Homo sapiens: one gene and its partner. The protein of the gene in region 1 purifies or fractionates together with the protein of each later gene. This does not show direct contact. Each region holds a gene or a part of one and is shown in the gene's direction. Other genes may lie near its edges. The genes, in order: KAZN and YIPF1.

Region 1 (3,820 bases):
ACGAGGGGCCCCGGGGGAGGAGAGAAAAAGTCATCCTGAGGCCTTTGGTCACACAGGTGGGGTGAGCGGGGCACTGTGGGCTGAACCAGGTGGTGGGGGACAGCAGGGTGTGACTAAGATGGTCCGGGGATGCCCCTGATGAGGGGGCTTGGGCATACCCCAGCCCTGCTCTGGGCCAGCCCCCTCCGTAGAAAGACAGACACATGGGGAAGACAAGAGGCCCCAAAGGCCCTAGTACACCCCCAACCAATGCGGGAACCTCACGAGCCCCCCAGCACTCCTCTGCCTTCCGGGACCAGCCCAAGCAGCTCTGCACACTGGGCCGCCATGGTGTCTGCTCCTGGTTCTTACCATACATAACAGGGTGAGGAAAAACGGTGCAAGGCAGAGCCGAGGCAGGCAGAGATCAAGTAGGCGTGAGTGGGCTTGGTGAAACCTCTCCCATAGAGGAGCGGGCCAGGTGGAGGGGGCTTCTCTTAGCAAGCATACCTGGGATGGCTGCAGGGCCTTCTCATCAGGTGTACCCCCGCAGGCCACCCACCCCCACCGCTCATACCACTCCTGCTCTGCCTCCGGCCTGCCTGCCTCTCTCCTGGCTTTCTGTGAGCAAAATTTGTTGAGCAGGGGCAGCTACAGGGTAAAGGGAAGGAACCCCCACCCCCACCCCGCCCCACCCCGTTCTGAGAATGTGGAGAGGGGAAGAACTCGCTTTGTAAATCTGACACTTCTGTTTTGCATAATTATGTCCTTCACTGGTTTCTCCATCATTTTTGTGTAGTTAGTTAATCAAACCTGGTGGTGTGTGCTGTAATTTGCAGAAGCAGCTTAGGGGATTTTTTTAGAAGCAGGGTTTGGGGTGGAAAATCGGCTGGTTTGGAAGCAGGAAAACCAAATCCATATGTGTGCAGGAGAGGGGCCCTCGGCATGACTCTAGGGTGGCAGGAAGTACTGAGGTGAGACTGGATCAGAAACTTAGGGAGCGACTCAGAGCAAGAAGGTGCCAGGCCTCATTGGCACCATCAGGATGCTGGCTCGTCTGAGACAGGGCTGGGCTGAGGGATGGGGAGGAGGGCCATGAGGGCAACCCCTGCTGGGCTTTCCTTCCTGAGGGTCCCAAAAACACCTTACACCCAGCACCCACCTCCTAACCAGTTCCATCCAGGAATCCCCTAAAGCCATCCCTGAATCCCCTCACCATCTTTGGTCACCCAAGTAGGAAATCCCTCCTGCCCCCTTACCCCACACCCAGCAGGGTCCATAAACACTGCCTGTGTTCAATGAACAGGGTGGGGATGACTGCTTCATCTTTCAAAAACTTCAGGAGTCTGGGCTACTGCCTGGGTTCCCCCTAAATGGGGATAAGCTTTTCTTCTTTTCTTTTCATAGATTACTTTTGTAGTGGGGGCAAGGGCAGAAAAACAAAAACACTAAAAGCCACTTTGATTTTGAAGAGAAGAAATGCATGGGGGGAGGACGTCCCCACCGTCCTCTGCCTCCCAGGGGTGCGGCCTGCCCAGCCCCTGCCCCCGACAGCCTCGTCCCCCAGCATGGCCTGCACTTGTGTGTTGCACAACACAGCCCCTAAATGGGGCTGTCTTAGTCTGCTTGGGCTGCCATAACAAAATGACACCATCTGGGTTGCTTAGACAACAACTTACGTCTCACAGTTCTGGAGGCTGGAAGTCCAAGATCGGGATGCCAGCATGGTTGGGACCTGGGGAGGGCTCTCTTCCTGGCTTGCAGAAGGCAACCTTCTTGCTGTGTCCTCACATGGGGAAGAAGGAAGAGGGAGGGGGAGAGAGTGATGTCTCTGGTCTCTTCCTGTAAGGACAATAATCCCATCATGAAGGGCACCCCTATGACCTCATCTAATCAGCTCCCAAAGGCCCCAGCCACAAATACCATCACATCGAAGGTTAGGATTTCAGCATGTGAATTGGGTGGGGGGCATGGCAGAGGGAAACATTTAATCCCTAACAGTGGCACCACGTTAACCTCCAGGAACCAGGAGTCTGTGGTCCCAGGGATCGTGGAGCCCCACCCTTAGACACCCCCAGGGCTTCCTGGAGGAGGCAGAGGACTTATTTTGAGTTTTCTACTCCCAGTGGGAATCTGGCCTGTCTCCAGTTTGCCACATGACCTTGCCCTCTCTGGGACTGTTTCCCACCTGAGAAGTGAAGGGAGTTAAATTAGGACAGTGGTTTTTAAACTTTTGAGGATCATGACCACTTTAAGAATCTAATAAGAGCTTTTGACACTTTCTCTAGAAAAAATACACAAAACTTCACAACTTTTCACTGTGTTGGGTTGGTGGGTGGGACTCTCTGGCCCACCCACTTTCAGGGCTCCATGGACTCGGGGGTAAGAACTCTAAATGAGTTCATCTTCGAGAACATTTTCAGCCATGACATCTTGTGTGACCATGGGCATGATGGCGTCCTCTCTGGGACTGGTCACCTTATCTACAAAATACCAATGACAAAACCCACCAACCCCTTACCAACCCATCATCACCTTATGGATATCATTTTATTTACCCTCACAACATCAATGCAGGATAGACATGCTTACTCCCATTTTAAAGATGGAGAAGGCCGGGTACGATGGCTCACACCTGTAATCACAGCACTTTGGGAGGCCAAGGCAGGTGGATCACCTGACATCAGGAGTTCGAGACCAGCCTAACCAACATGGTGAAACCCTGTCTCTACTAAAAATAGAAAAATTAGTAGGCGTGGTGGTGTGTGCCTGTGATCCCAGCTACTCAGGAGGCTGAGGCAGGAGAATTTTTTGAACCCAGGAGGCGGAGGTTGCAGTGAGCCGAGACTGCATCATTACACTCCAGCCCGGGCGACAAGAATGAAACTCCGTCTGAAAAATAAAGTCGGAGAAAATTAGATGCAGAGAAATCATGAGCATAAAGTCACACTACAAAAAACCTGACTTCAAAGTCAGTTGCCTTTCCAGTGTCCCATGCTGCCTTTGTGTTAAAAACAAGAACAATGACAGCTTCTACTACTACTATTTATAGAACACTAGGTGTGTCCCAGACCCTGTGTTAGGGGTTTTGCATTCTCCTCTCTTTTAGTCCCTACAACTCCATGAGGCAAGCGCAATTCTCCCCGTTTTACAGAGGAGAAAACGGAGACCCAGAGTTTCAAGGTCCCAGAGCTAAAAAGTAATAGAACCAGAACAGCTTCCCGTTTTCCGTGCTGCGCCGTGACCCAGACAATATCTAAATTTTGTGCCGTCCTCAGATTTCAGAGTCTAATCCGGCTCCAGTTCAGGGATGGGGCAGTGACAGATTTTATAAAATGTCTGAATTCCTTTTAAAATCATGCTGTTTTATTCAACTTGGGCTCTTACAATAAATAGCTCAAACCAACAGCTGGGAACGTATCGCCAAGCTGCGGCCCCATGGGGACACCCTTAATGAAAAGAGAACATTTCTGAAGGGCAGGAGCACATTAATTGTGGGCATGCAGATGGAGATTGCTGATTATGGATGGGCCCCTCTCGAGTAGGTTAAGTGGGGTGCCCCCTTTGCAGCTCTCCACCCCAACTCTTGTTGCACCATTGATTTGCTGACCAAACTCTTGCTTCAGAGAGGAGAGGAGGCCATTCTAGTCTTCATCAGTGACAAATCTGGCCCAGTGGCATCTGATTCAGAGGGCTGTGGGCTCCAGCTCCTGCCCGAGAGAACCGTCCTGTAACAAGGCTGAGGCCGGCCCTTGAGGGACTGGGAGGGGGACTGCCCCAGGACCTTTTCATCCTAGAAGGGAGGTTGTCTTGGGCCAGAAGTTTCCAGTTCAGGAGCTCC
Region 2 (3,820 bases), about 39 Mb from region 1:
TATCCAGTAACCTTGGTTTGAGTTTAATGCAATAAATGTTAACCATGAGATAGAAACCCTGCCTTCAGCTAGTTCACTGTGTGTACATAGAAAGATATGTATTTGCCTGTGTGTGTGTGTGTGTGTGTGTGTGTGTGAGAGAGAGAGAGAGAGAGAGAGAGAGAGAATGTATCCATGTATCCTTCCTTCTTTTCTTCCCCTCTACCTTCCATGCCCACTTTCCCTTCTTGTCCATCATGGAGTCAGACTTGGATTCAATCCCAACTCTATCAAATAACCTTGATTTGAGTTTAATTCAGTAAATATTAACCATGAGATATAGATCCTGCCTTCAAGTAGTTCAGTGGTTAGAAAGCTAGTAAATGACTATTGCTGTAAACAGTACATATTAACCTCTATATCAGAGATAAGTGTAGGTATATTGACATAGAAGAAGGAGTGAACCACTTTGCCTGGGGATCTGGAAACTCAGGAGAGTCTTTACCTGTTCTTATCCTCTTTGGCTGGGCATCCCAGTATCAGGAAGTGATGTGATATATATACTGGTAAAGTAGTCATTGGCCCTATCAATAAACATTTTTCCGTTTTATGTAAAAAGTATGAGTCACATCTGAGATGAGATCCTGCTTCTACTAACTTGTTAATTATGTGACCTTGACCAAACAACTTAGCTTCTCTGACCCCTTTTCCTCATCTCTAAAATGACAATATAGATTGTATGAAATAAATGTAGCTACATATTAGTTAACAATATAAAAACTAATTCTTGATTGAGCATTTATTATTGATCAGTCGCTCTTCTACATAGAACAGTTCTTACCTGCTTTTATTCATTTAATTCTCCTATTAATCTTAGAAGGTAGTATATTATTTTTCTTCCCATTTTATAGATGAGGAAACTGAGACAGGAAGGTTAAGTAACTTACCCCCAAGAGTTTCTTTTCCTAGAACTAGAACCCATGGAGTCTGTATACAGAGTCTGTGCCCTTGACCATTATTCCACATTGCCTCTCAATAAAGCACCGAGTGTAATACCTGATGCCCAGTAGTTGATCAATAAGTGACAGCTATAGCCATGGGAGTAATTTCCTCCTCTTCCCTTAGTTATCCAAGAAAAAGGCAGTACATCAGCAGAATTACATTTGGCCTAACGAGGCAATTCCCAGTGTGAAAAAACTGTTCTGGGAGCTAAAACATGTTTTGGACATTCATGTCTTAACCAGAGTCTGACTATAATTGTTAGGGGTGTCTTTGTTCTTGCCAAGATGCATTAAGTGAATTACCTACTGATTTTCATGTAGAAAGGGCTGGTGCCATGGCTTACCTATAACTTTATGACCTCCACTCCAGAAGAGGGAAAGGGAATCCTCCAGGGCGTGCTGCTACTAGAGGAAGAGGAGAGAGGTACAGGAATATGCTGAACGTTGCTGTTCTGAGGAGCCACTCAATAGCATTTTTGCCACAGTGGCGGAATTATTTATTTAAGGAAGAAAGTATAACTGGAGAATATTTCAAGCAGTTAATCAGTGAGCTGCATCTCCCAATTTCAGAGACAGAGGAACTCTAGAGAGCATGCAGAGCAAGTTAATCTCTACCCAAGGCATTTTAATACATTTGCTAAAGAAGTCAGTGTCAGCCGGGCGTGGTGGCTCACGCCTGTAATCCCAGCACTTTGGGAGGCGGAGGCGGGCGGATCACGAGGTCAGGACCATCCTGGCTAACACGGTGAAACCCCGTCTCTACTAAAAATACAAAAAATTAGCCGGATGTGGTGGCGGGCGCCTGTAGTCCCAGCTACTCGGGAGGCTGAGGCAGGAGAATGGCGTGAACCCGGGAGGCGGAGCTTGCAGTGAGCCTAGATCGCGCCACTGCACTCCAGCCTGGGCGACAGAGCAAGACTCTGTCTCAAAAAAAAAAAAAAAAAAAAAAAGGAAGTCAGTGTCAGCTCTTGTTATACCGAGGAAGAGAACATGTTCTTCCAAGGGGATAGTTGGTTTTTATTTGATTGAAATATCTACTATATATGAACATTTGCAGTGTGGCCCTCTGAAGTATTTCAGTTGCATAGTTCAGTTGTTTAATAATATTAGTTGTTAGTTATTAAATGACCTATAAAAACCATATGAGAGACTATTGATCCTCACCACAAAGACGAATGGTAAAGATTCATTAATTCAACAAACATTTCTAAAGTGCCTACTGTGTGTTAGGTACTGTACCAAGCTCAGGGATTACAGACCAGTAAGACATGATTCCGTGGTCCACTGAAGTCAATTGACATGTTAGCATTTAAGTACAATAAGGTGTTGGAAGTGCTCTGATAGTCTACTAAAGGCATGATGGAGATTGAAACTTGTGTCCTGTCATCCTCAGTGTCCATAGCAGCTACCATCATCTATGCCTATGCCTGGCTGGTTCCTCTTGCACTCTGGGGTTTCCTCATGTGGAGAAACAGCAAAGTTATGAACATCGTCTCCTATTCATTTCTGGAGATTGTGTGTGTCTATGGATATTCCCTCTTCATTTATATCCCCACCGCAGTAAGTACCATACTTAGGGAGTAGATTCTGAGTGATGCTCTGTTCTTGGTAGAAACTTCAACCAAGAATTTGACCTACCATCATTATTTCCAGCGCAATACTCATGTTCTTCTGAAAAAATCTCCTTTGAAGTTAGAAGTTAAGCATGAAAGGGGTCTGGGGAGCCTAGTGCCTTCATTGGATCTTGGGCCCTTTGTTATAAAAGCATATGCCTCAGTCTACATGCTGGTGGTGTTCCTCCAGCCTGTACTGAAAAACCAGAGTGGCAATGGGGGCCCAGCTGCTGATTGGCTCAGGGGCCTTTGTAAACATATGTGCCTGGAATGAACAAATGCCTCCCAAGAACTCCCCGCTCCTCCTTTTCTCTTCTTTCAGATACTGTGGATTATCCCCCAGAAAGCTGTTCGTTGGATTCTAGTCATGATTGCCCTGGGCATCTCAGGATCTCTCTTGGCAATGACATTTTGGCCAGCTGTTCGTGAGGATAACCGACGCGTTGCATTGGCCACAATTGTGACAATTGTGTTGCTCCATATGCTGCTTTCTGTGGGCTGCTTGGTATGGGTTCAGTCGTATATTCTTTTGGTGTGTTTTATATCCAAATGCTAAAAGACCTCAAACTGTTAGACACAACAGTTCTTTTAAAATTGAGTCCATGGGCTGGGCATGTTGGCTCACACCCATAATCCCAATACTTTGGGAGGCCCAAGTGGGCGGATCTCGAGCTCGGGAGCTCAAGACCAGCCTGGGCAACATGGTGAAACCCTGTCTCTACTAAAAATACAAAAATTAGCTGGGCATCGTGGCTTAAACGATCCTCCCACCTCAGCATCGCAAGTAGCTGGTACTTGGGAGGCTGAGGTGAGAGGATCGCTTGAGCCCAGGAGGTGGAGGTTGCAATGAGCTGAGATCATACCACTGTACTCCGGCCTGGGTGACCGAGGGAGACCCTGTCTCAAAAGAAAAAAAAATTGATTCTATGAAATAAAATTTCATTTTAAGTAGACTCACCTACATGGGAAGTGGTGAAATTATGAGAATTTGGCTTTAGTCTTTGGTTTTGCCTAATTTCAGTAATCTGATGAGAATTTGGGGTCTGACCAGAGGAAATAGGTGTGGATGAGTGTCTGTATACATTTGTTCCTTGGTATGGGGGTTGTGGGGGTGTGGTTGGTTCCAGGACCCTCTATGGATACCAAAGCATGGATGCTCAAGTTCTCTATATAAAAATGGTGTACAGACATCCTCCTATGTGCTTTACATCATTTCCAGATTACTCA

Evidence for each region.
Region 2: the proteins of KAZN (region 1) and YIPF1 fractionate together in Homo sapiens (co-fractionation; one large-scale study listed by BioGRID). This does not show direct contact.

What each region holds. Positions count from the first base shown.
Region 1 is NC_000001.11:15,094,945-15,098,764, forward strand, and holds part of KAZN (kazrin), read left to right. Parts: intron 1-3,820. UniProt on the Homo sapiens protein: Component of the cornified envelope of keratinocytes. May be involved in the interplay between adherens junctions and desmosomes. The function in the nucleus is not known.
Region 2 is NC_000001.11:53,865,478-53,869,297, reverse strand, and holds part of YIPF1 (protein YIPF1), read left to right. Parts: intron 1-2,373; coding exon 2,374-2,540; intron 2,541-2,915; coding exon 2,916-3,098; intron 3,099-3,820.